3 linked regions of the Homo sapiens genome follow. The protein of the gene in region 3 interacts with the protein of the main gene of each other region in a pairwise test. Each region holds a gene or a part of one and is shown on either strand. Other genes may lie near its edges. The genes, in order: COMT, ELAVL4 and DCLRE1B.

Region 1 (3,752 bases), on a different chromosome or scaffold from region 3:
ACTATAGGCCCATGCCACCACGCCGGGCTAATTTTTAAATTTTTTGTAGAGATGGGGTCTTTATGTTGCCCAGGCTTGTTTCAAACTCCTGGCCTCAAGTGATCCTCCTCGGCCTCCAAAAGTGCTGGGATTACAGACATGAGCCACTGTGCCTGGCCTGTTATTTTTGTTTCCTCATTAAATGCTTGACTGCTTGCATCATCCAGCAAAAATCCTTTGCTACCAAGTCTCAACAGATGGTCCCGCTGGTAGTTTATGAACACAACACAGAACAGAAAATGGACGGGGACTGTTGAGAGGAAAGAAGCAGGTCTCTGCTCTTCTTGCACAGGGGGAGTGCTGACAAAGACCCTCCCTCCCCACACTCCAGCCAGGCTCCTTAGAGTCCCCTTCTCCACTGGGCCTCACCCTGGCCTATCTAGGCTGGAACGAACACTAACATAGCTCCTAACAGCTCAAGGCCACATTCCCAGAACGATCCTAGCCCCCTCTAAAGTGCCTGCCTGAGAAGTTCAAGGCTGCCACAAGAATTTCCTGTGTGTTCCAGCCAACACCTGAGGATGGGGCCCCTGTCTCCCAGTCTCTGTGGGAGGTTGGGGGCCTGACTTCGGTAAGCCCCAGTGGCAAACCCAGATCAGTTGGTTTCACAGGGGCCAACCCTCCCTTCCCAGTTTTGGTGATTTTCTGTTTCCCTAACTCTACTGAGTCCCCACCCCTTCCCACTCCCTCACTCTCCCTTTAAACTCCAGGCACATCTAGACAAATCAGCATGGAGCCAGCTTTTTCTCATGTTGTCAGTAGTTACCAAGTAAAATCTGTTTTTTCTGCATTAACTAGTGTCTCACTGGGCTCTGCAGGGCAGCTCCTACGGTCCCTCAGGCTTGGAGGGTCACTTTAAACAATAAAAAGCAACAGGACACAAAAATCCCTGGCTGGAAAAATCCAAAAAGCAGGTCTGTTAGCAGGGCAGGCCCGGAGTGACTTCCCCTTTCTCTAACATTCCCACGTGGTCCTGCACACCACACATCCCCCCGACCCTGGGGAGTCCTGGGCCCCTTCCTGGTGGAGCAGCCTCTCTCTTGCAGGGAAAGGCCCTGGGGTACCCCAAGGCCTCCAACAGGGAGCCTGTTGGAGAAGTCACCAAGGCCCTCTGAGTCTGGGGCTCCACAGACCCTCCCCCAGGCCTCCTGCAACTCTCCAGCTCTGAGAGTCTGATCCCAGCCCAAGGACCAAGTGGGACCCTCCCCTGTGACTCTACCACACCCTCACCAGGTCAAGCCCTACTCCAGGGAGAGGCTTATCCTCCTGGTCTGGACCCCCAACCCAGTCTTGAAGCGGGATCTCTCACCGCTATCTGGAGCCCCTCATCACAGCACAGATCTTCAACCTCAGCTTTCCACAAGGAGTCTGGGGACCCCACCCCGGTCCAAAGATCCCCACCCAAGGTCCGAATTCCCCAGTTCCCATCCAGATTCCCCACCCCAAGTCCGGAGACTCCCACCCAACGTCAGATCACTTCACAGCGGTCCGAATTCCCCACACCCTATCCCAGTGTTCCACCCTAGGTCTGAAGGCCCCCGCCCCGAATCCGGCCGCATTCGGCCCCGGTCTAGCCAGCGCTCTCACCTCTCCCGCGACGGCCCGCCCGGGACTGGACCCGCCCCGGTCCGGCGCAGGCAGCGCGGCGGGCAGCCCTAGCTGCCCCAGAAGCCCCACGACGATGGCGGCAATGGCGGTGGCGCTGCGGGGATTAGGAGGGCGCTTCCGGTGGCGGACGCAGGCCGTGGCGGGCGGGGTGCGGGGCGCGGCGCGGGGCGCAGCAGGTAGGATGGGGTCGGGGCGTCCCCGCGGTAGGTGTCCGCGCGGCCGGGGTGTCCTCGTGAGGGTGTCCGCGCGGCGGTGGCCAGGGTGTCCCCGTGGGGGTGCCCACGCGGGGGTGTCCACATACCGGCCTCTTGGTCTAGTCTTGCTCAGGAGTCCGGGCTGCTTCTAGCCACAAGTAGCCCCCTTCCCAGGTGGGGAAACTGGGGCTGGGTGCCTTGTCTAAGGTCCTGCTGTGCTGACTGCACCTGTGGTCTCCCAGAGCTGGTATCCCAGTAACAACTACAGTTCTGAAGATGATGATATCCCACCTCCCGAGGTCACCAGGCACCGGCCCCACTGGCCAGACTTCCCAACTTCTCCCCAGACCCCTAGACTCTAGAGGTTAGAGGCTGCACAGAGCAATGGGAGGATACACACTCGTCCTCCTGGAGCCCCTGAAGAACAGTTAACTAAATCAGGACAATAATCATAACTGAGCACTCGAAGCAGAGGCTGGGTGTCTGGTCACTCAGGACAGTTCAAGCCTCATCCTGTAGGACAGACTCCCCTAGATCCGACCAGAGCGCCACCATATCTGTTATGTGTGGCCAGTTTCATTCCATGCACGACAACATGGTCCCCCACCATGCAGGGGGCCCCTCGACCCAGCCCCCTGGATGCTTGTGACAGCGAGCAGCTCTCCCCACAGGCAGTGAGTGTAGAGGGGTGTAAGGACGGGGTCAGGGCTCCTTCCCAGGGATGGCGGCTATGGGAGGCATGGTGGCTGGCCCTCTGCCCGCGGTGGACTCGGGAGGGAGGGCTGACTGTGTGTGTGAATGGGCAGAGTTGGTGCTATGGAGGTTTTGGGGGTCTCCAGGACGGAGGGTGGCCCAACAGAGTTCTGGGAGGCAGTCACCACCTCGTGGCCTTGCTGAGACCTGGAACCCTCAGCCAGGGCACTCCATCTTTCAAAGCTTCTTGGCTGCATGCGTCAGGTGGGCAAGCTCAGGAAGGTTAAATGCACCCGTGCTGGCGGAGTCCCATAAAAGGGGATTCGGCATCAAAAGGAGGAAAAAGGTTCAAAGGGCATTTATCATGGGGTTCAGAATCACGGATGTGAGGGGCGGTAGTGGGGACAACAGACAGAAAAGCTTCCCCTTCCCATACTCACAGTCCAGACACGGCAATAGCCAAATTCCAAATTTCTAGGTATTCTGGACTCAGAATGGGGAATATCATACGAGACTTAGGGGGATAATGCCCTTATCTTCCTATTTTAAGGGAAAGAACAAACTGAACCTTCTATGCAAAATAGGATGATGATCCTGGTCCTCCCAGTAAGAAATAAAATAAGTAGTCTCCAGGCATTCCTTTCCGCCAGAGGAGCAACTGTTTTTTAAATAGCCCTTTCGTGCCCAGTCTGTTACTAAACCATATGAGTTGTTTTTTTGGGGTTTTTTTTTTTTTTTTTTTTTTGAGACAGTGTCTTGCTCTGTCGCCCAAGCTGGAGTACAGTGGTGCGATCTCAGCTCACTGCAAGCTCCGCCTCCCGGGTTCACGCCATTCTCCTGCCTCAGCCTCCCGAGTAGCTGGGACTACAGGCATCTGCCACCACGCCTGGCTAATTTTTTTTGTATTTTTAGTAGAGACGGGATTTCACTGTATTAGCCAGGATGGTCTCAATCTCCTGACCTCATGATCCACCTGCCTTGGCCTCCCAAAGTGCTGGGATTACAGGCATGAGCCACTGCGCCCAGCCGAGTCATTTTTTAATACTACTGCATGTGAGTTAACACAATCATTCCCAAATTGAAGTTTTAGATGGGCCCTCAAAATTTTTAGGATATGGTTTTCCTACAGGTTTATATTGAAAGTATGGGGTATCTCCTATTACTCCTCTTTTTATTTGTCTTAAAGGAGAAAGGGAGAGGCCAGAGACCAAATGTCCC
Region 2 (3,752 bases), about 64 Mb from region 3:
TGCCACTTACTAGCTGTGTGACCTTGGCAAGGGACTTAAATCCTAAGAGTCTTCATTTTCCTCATTTGAAAAATGGGAACAATGCCACCGTATGGCAAAGCGGTAAGAACCGATCCAGTGATATGACTTATGTAAAGCACCAGAACAGTGGTGGGCACATAACCACAATCACTGATGTTTATTAGTTACTCTGCCAATCATCCAATGTGACTTCTCTCACTGTCTCCTCACAAGAAGGCAATGAAGCATATTCTAATATTCTCTATGTCTTATAGATGAGGAAACCAAGGCATAGCAGACATCTGATAACTAGTAGCTTCCATTATTATTACCATTTGCCTGCTCAGAGGATTTAGGGGGGAAGCATTTTCATTTACTATAACATACATGTAATAAAGTGTATAAATCTTAAGGGTACAACACAAAGAATGTTTACAAAGTGAACACAATTCACAACTGGGTAATTACCTTTCAGATCACAATACAGAACATGACTGGCACCCCAAATGCCTTTCTCAGGTTCTCCATCCCTGTCATTTACCTCACCCCTCAAAGGTAACCACTATTCTGAATTCTAGTCCACAGATTTGTTTTACCTATTTTTTTACCTTTATATACATGGACTCATACAACACATACTCTTTTGTGCCTTTTCACACATGTATGGAGTGTCATCTGCTCTGTTACATGTAACAATGCATTGTTCTTCCCACTGCTATAGCAATTTCCATTGTGTGGAAATATTACATTTTATTTATCTGTTGATGAACATTTGGATTGTTTCTAATTTTGAACTACTATAGATAATGCTGCTATGAGCGTTATGTACAACATTTTGGTACAAAAATGTACATATTTCTATTGGGGATAGTCCTAGGATTCTGTTTTTGGGATCATAGGGTGTATGTATATTTAGCTTCAGTAGATACTGCCAACAGTATTTCAAAGTGGCTGTATCCATTTATATTCCCACCAGCAGAGTATGAAAGTTCCAGTTGCTCCACATCCTCATCAATGTTCAGAGACTATTTTTTGTTTTTGTTTTTGTTTATTTTCTCATCTGAAGCAGAGTGGTATAGTAAAAATGGAATGAGTGTTTGAGTCAAGACAACAGGTGATTTAAAATCTGAGTTCTAGGCCAGGTGCGGTGGCTCACACCTGTAATCCCAACACTTTGGGAGGCCGAGGTGGGCAGATCACCTGAGGTCAGGAGTTCAAGACCAGCCTGACCAACATGGAGAAACCCAGTCTCTATTGAAAATACAAAATTAGCTGTGTGTGTGTGGTGGTGCACACCTGTAATCCCAGCTACTCGGGAGGCTGAGGCAGGAGAATCACTTGAACCTGGGAGGTAGAGGGTACAGTGAGCCAAGATTGCACCACTGCACTCTAGCCTGGGCAACAGGAGTGAAACTCCGTCTCAAAAAACAAAAAAACAAAAAACTTAGTTTTACCACTTATTAGCTGTGTGATCTGAGGCAGGTTACTTCAATACTCTGAGCCTCAGCTTCCTCTTCAGCAAAACTGGAATAAAAAGCTTGCCACGCAGGGTTATCTTCAGGATGAGAGATAATGTACATTAAATGTCTAAAATACAAAGGGCCCAGAGGCATCATAACTATTATTCCTCATCATGCCCCACGTAGGTGAGTGTTATTCTAATTCTTTCATCTTCTGATGGTCACAAATGATAAATGAAACAAAAAGGAAAACATGGCTCAAGAGGAGCCAAGGAAATAAAGCAGACTAAGAAAGATGGGGAGCATCTAAGATTCTTTACCATCATGTAAGTAATTTAAGTGGCTCCACTTCTCCCATCACCAGAATTTTCTTCTTGGCTTCAGGTCAACTTTAGGATTCTAGAAGGCTGGTCCAGACAGCAAGGAGAAAGCAAAAAGCTTCTGAGAAGAATCTTAAATCAAGCTCCCCTCAGGACTGATAGAAGTTGTACCCAGCAAAGCCTATTCAGCCACTTTGCCTTCGAGGCAAGGGTCCAGGAAAAGAATCAGGGAGATGGTCCCCAGGGAAGGAGGCATGCTAAAGGGATGGCATTACAGAGCATCAGCACAACTCCTGGCTAGGAGGCAGGTTTCAGCTCTGCCAAGCTGTGGGGCCTTCTGGGTCTTTGCAGTGCCTCCATTTGCTGTGTTGTCTCACTGCTTCACTGAGTCAGGTGTCCAGGCAACAAACATAAGAAGCACTGCCAACTCGATAATGAACATGAAAATCAGAATTTATCCATTCAGGAGGCCGGACTACTACATTCGATTTAATGGCAAAAACCCCCCAGGCCCACAATCTTTAGAAACTCTTCTCTGTTTTCTACCTTTTTCAGGTTACCCTTCTTTCAGCTCCCCAACAAACACCTAGAAAATATCCCACACCAAGGCAGCTTATTTGGTGCTAGTGATGGAGTATGTGGAAGAATTTCATGTTGAGATTCTGTGGGACCAAAACTCATAAAGGTCACCTGATAGTCAGGTTCATCTTTCGTTTTCAGACACGTGGTGAAAGCCAGCACTTGTCCATGTGAACATCTCACAGGTCCACCTCCTCCAGGAAGGCCTGTGAAGTAACAAGGCTGCAGCAAAGTAATTTCAGTCCCCGCATCAGCTTTGTGGCCTTCCTTGCATTCTATGTGGATTTCCTAATCTATGTTGACTCCAGGAGGTGAGTCCTGTCTGTAGATTAGACAGCCCAACTGGTCCCAACTAGCTTCTAAAAGGAGCCATGAGATACAATGCTCACTACTGAGCTACTTTAGCTGACCACATCTATAAATTAGGTCAAGTCATTCTCATCCAATGTAGATGGAGCTCTCTTTGCTCTGCATCTACACTACACAGTTATTCTTTTGTGTATCCAGAAGGAACTGATGAAAACACACAAATGGACACATACAAAGAGAGTTTTCTCAATAAAAGTGTGCTGTCTGAAAGCTGAGAAACATTTGCAAATGTGTTAATATACATCCTATAATAAGACCCCTCACAGGTCTTAATGATGCATCTTAGGATGCAACACAGGCTGAAAAAAAAAATCAGAAATGTAAAACATCAGAATCAAATCTGACATGTGAATGAAACAAGAGGATTTTAAAACATTACCTGGAAAATAAGAGAAGTTGCCAAGATGTAAAGATATTAAATGCACGAATATGAAACTACAGCATTTTAAGGTTACATGATAGACCTCAAAGACAGGACACCTGTTCTCTCTGCTTGGGAAACAGAGGGACAGAACAGGAGTAGAAAAGATGTGTGTTGGTAGAAAGCACATCCTCCAGTAAGTACAGAGGCTGGCTGGGCAAAATCAGAACACTTGCTTCCTCAGGCTAACGCCTTTGATATTCTAACAGCACAATTTTCATTGCAAATAAATATATCAGTTACTCAAGTGTGCATATGTACTTTAATGAAACATTCTGTGTGGGTCTCACAGCCAACTTTGCAGCTGACCAGGTTCCAAGCCCCTGACTTGCCCTCCTTTCCTCATTTGAATAGCAATTAAGAACAGAATTACAGTCAGCATCCAGGATAGATCATTGAGGAGGTTCAGTTGACTTCGAACTCTAATGGATGTACAAAGCACTACATTAAATCTTTTATGTTTCTGTGATATATTTTAAGAAACATTATACAGGCAGAAAATTTCAGGGATAAACTATTAGAGCGGTGCACAATAACGTAGGCACTCAAATCCTGTCATCGTAAATGTCGATGGTTTGAATGACTAATTACTCACACTCAATG
Region 3 (3,752 bases):
TTCTGGACCTCCATCATCATCTCCCATGGGTACCAAGGGGGACCCTAAACCAATTTCCTCCCTGGTTTTTTGAGAAATAAACTCCTCATCTGTAGACCTTAAGTGCACTGAAAATCCCAGTGGGGCCGTCAACATAGTCACCCTCTTTTGAGACTCACAGAAAGGCACTGCCTTGTTCCATTCTTTGCTATAGAGATCTGGGAACAACTGCTTCTTGATCCGCAAAGGATGGTGGGAAGGCTGCTTTTCAAGGTCCGCAGGCCAGGGAGAAAGTTTCTCTTTCTTGGCCTTCTTTGAGTCTCTGTCAGCTTGAGATTGATCAGCACTTTCCTCAGGGGATTCAAACACAACACCTTGGGTTCTCGGCCTCTTTAGCCTCCTTTCTAACAGCCAGAGAAGGCTTGGTTTTCTAGAGGAAGAACTCATGTATTGCTGTACAGAGTCCGGAATCAGGGGCACGGAGATCCTGGGGCTCAGACTGTCCTGAAAGCCTCCACAGGGCCGCCGACTTACAATGGGCACCACCTGGCAAGGCTTCAGTGCTGCGACAAAGGCACGAAGCTCGGAGTAAGAGGAATGGTCAGAGTAAGGGATGACGTGGATATCAGGGTGGGAGCTGTGGATTTTTCGGCTTGTGGGAAGGATAGCAATCGTAGGGTGGGTCTGGTTCCAACGCAGCATGTTGGAATGGCAGATCTCCATATGGTCTACTGCATGGATGCGGCCAGCCTTCTCCTCCACTGTGAACACATCTGCCAGGCCCAGTAGCTGTACCAACTCCAGGCGCCGAGGACTCAATACCACCCAGGTCTGAAACTCCAGGGCCAGCTGCTCCAGCAGTGATTCCTTTCCCAGGCTGTAGAGTCCTAAATAATGTTCAATGTATTGGGGAAAGTAAGAGAAGGAAGAAAATTAAGCTATTGGAAAATCCTAATAAATCAACAAAATGTTTAACAAAAATAGATACAATTCATGGAGAAATCCAGGGAGAATATCAAGGAAGAGGTGGCATTTGAGCTAAGACATATGAAAGGGAATGACACAGAATCCACTCATTCATTTAGTTCAACAAAAGAGAGCATCTAGCAAGTTTCAGGCACCATGAAAACTAATAAAGAAAACTGTCAGTCCTCAAGAAGTACTATCTACAAGGAGACCCAGAAAAACCACAATTAAGAGCAACGTTAAAGATATGTGTACAGGCCGGGCACTGTGGCTCACACCTGTAAGCCTACAATTTTAGGAGGCTGAGGCAGGAGGATTGCTTGAGCCCAGGAGTTCAAGACCAACCTGGGCAACCTGGCAAGACCCTGTCTCTACAAAAATAAACAAATAAGCATGTTGGTGCACGCCTATAGTTCCTGGTACACAGGAAGCTGACGCGGGAGGATCACTTGAGTCCGGGAGGTCCAGGCTGCAGTGAGCTGTGATCATGCCACTACCCTCCAGCCTGGGCAACAGAGTGAGACCCTGTCTCTTAAAAAAAAACAAAAAAAGTATACAGTATTGTATCTAACAGGTGATGGAGTTAGGGAACGTTAGGCTAAATCTTAAAGGATGGGCAAGGTTAACCTGGCAAGGAAAGGGTAGAAAGGGTATAGTGGAAAACATTTTAAGAGGGGTCAGTTTGCTGTTACTAAAGTAAAAAAGGAATTGATAAGAAATGATACCAGAGAGGCAAGCAAGGGCCATATAATAGAGCGTCTTATATGTACCGCTAAGAAGCTTGGACTTCATTGTGTAAGTGAAGGGGAGCCACTGAGTGTGAAGCAGGAAAATGGCTAATTCTAATCATAAGAATAATATGCTCAGAGCAGGGCTTTAAAAAGAAAAATATGGTAATAATATTATTTGACTGCCAGGATGAGAAGAAGCTGGAGTGGAAGTTTCAATTGAAGGGCCCAAATAGTACTTACAGAGAAAGAAATGGAGACATTAATTTGGGAAATGGTTATGGTAACAGATATGGGAGATGTTGTTTAATAGCTGTTCTCAGACTTTTTCTGAAGAAGTTTCAAATCCACAACCAGATTGTGAACGCCATAAAAAGAAGTATATATTATTTATATCCACTTTATTCCTGATTATGGTTCAAAATCTCACTCCTTGGGCACAAATGGAGCGGATTTTTCTTCTCTCTATATATATTCCCACTTCCACCTCCCCACAGGTCCTTCCCTACCAGACTGTGAGCCCTCCAAGTCAGAGACTATATTTTATTCATCTTTATATCCCCACTGCCTATTGGATACTTGGTACTTAGTGGGTAGAGGCTTATTACATATTTGCAAAATTAATTAAGGCTTACTATAGCATCCTCCTAGCCAGCTTTGCTTTTTTGAGAAAATTCTGCATTAAAATATTAAGAATGGTTAGGTCTTTATAAGTAGCTAAGCAATCCTGAGAGTAGAGGATATTTCTCAATCGATTTGGTAGTCACCCTGGAAGTTATATAATTTTTTCAATGCCTTTGTTTAGTCTCATTTTGAAACTCCTTTCAGAGTTGAGACATGTCCTTTTCAAATATTTATAATGGTGGCAAGTCTTTGTCCTTTTGTAGACTCACAAATTTGGAAACAACCAAAAAAGTAATTTAGAACCAAATCTATTACATTTATTTATTTTATAAAACAAAAATGTATTTTCATAAACTATTCCAAATGGCAACTCCAAGAAAGAGTCCTCAACAATGTTTTATACTATTTATAATCAGTACAACAAGCACAAACCTGTTTTTTCAGTATACTTAATTTAAAGCACAACGCTCACTTAAATATCTATGTTCTGATAAATTTCATTCATTCATATTGAATGCTTCTGTGTCAGGCATTAGTGTAGGCATTTGTGATACACCCATAATAAAACAGAGACTGCCATAGTGGAATTCACATTCTAGCAGGGGGAATCAGACAATAAAAAGTCCAATAAATACATAAATTATAGAATATATTGCAAGGTGATGAGTGCATATTGTCCCTCTTCTACTTAAAATCCTTCAATAGCTCTTGGTTGGGTTTAGGATCAAGTCCAAAATGGCTTAACAGCACTTCAGCCCCTCTTGCCTTTTCAGCCTCCTTGCCCACTGTGTGCCTGTCATACTGACTGCTGCTTCTCTGTTCCACAAACACACAAAGTCTCTTCCCATTTCCAGTGATGCTCTTAAGGAGTTTATGCTTGTGTGTGTGTGTGTGTGCACGCGTATGTGCATGGGCCAGAGGAAGTGCATGATAGACAACAAGTAAGCAATAGCATATTTAAAAATATATATAGTATATGAGTGCTATAAAAAAATGAAAAAAATGAATTGGTATGGATGATCAGGAGTTGGGAATGGGGATGGTGGGCAGGTTGCAGTTTTACTTATTTCATTCATTCATTCATTTATTGAGACAGGGTCTTGCTCTGTCATCCAGGCTGGAGTGCAATGGCACTTACATGGCTCACTGCAACCTTGACCTCCTACTGGACCCAGGCAATCCTCCTGTCTCAGTCCCCTGTGTAGCTGGGACCACAGGCACGCACCATCGTGCCCAACTGATTTTTAAATTTTTTGTAGAGACAGGGTCTTGCCATGTTGCCCAAGCTGGTCTCAAACGCCTGGGCTCAAATGACCCTCCCATCTTGGCCTCCCAAAGTGCTGGGATTATAGGCATGAACCACCACACCTAGCCAGGTTGCAATTTTAAATAAGGTGGTCAGTGTAGGAGAAAGTGAGAACTGCACAAAGATCTGAAAGATGTGAGAATCCTTAA

The links.
Region 1: the proteins of DCLRE1B (region 3) and COMT interact in binary tests that used the Homo sapiens proteins (3 or more experiments, as listed by UniProt).
Region 2: the proteins of DCLRE1B (region 3) and ELAVL4 interact in binary tests that used the Homo sapiens proteins (3 or more experiments, as listed by UniProt).

The regions. Positions count from the first base shown.
Region 1 is NC_000022.11:19,939,772-19,943,523, reverse strand, and holds the start of COMT (catechol O-methyltransferase), read right to left. Parts: upstream 1,721-3,752; 5' UTR 1,627-1,720; intron 1-1,626. Other genes in the region: TXNRD2 (thioredoxin reductase 2, mitochondrial isoform 5 precursor), read left to right, coding at 1,721-1,823. UniProt on the Homo sapiens protein: Catalyzes the O-methylation, and thereby the inactivation, of catecholamine neurotransmitters and catechol hormones. Also shortens the biological half-lives of certain neuroactive drugs, like L-DOPA, alpha-methyl DOPA and isoproterenol.
Region 2 is NC_000001.11:50,139,887-50,143,638, reverse strand, and holds part of ELAVL4 (ELAV-like protein 4), read right to left. Parts: intron 1,868-3,752; exon of another isoform or gene 1,787-1,867; coding exon of another isoform or gene 1,781-1,786; intron 1-1,780. UniProt on the Homo sapiens protein: RNA-binding protein that is involved in the post-transcriptional regulation of mRNAs. Plays a role in the regulation of mRNA stability, alternative splicing and translation.
Region 3 is NC_000001.11:113,908,245-113,911,996, reverse strand, and holds part of DCLRE1B (5' exonuclease Apollo), read right to left. Parts: intron 867-3,752; coding exon 1-866.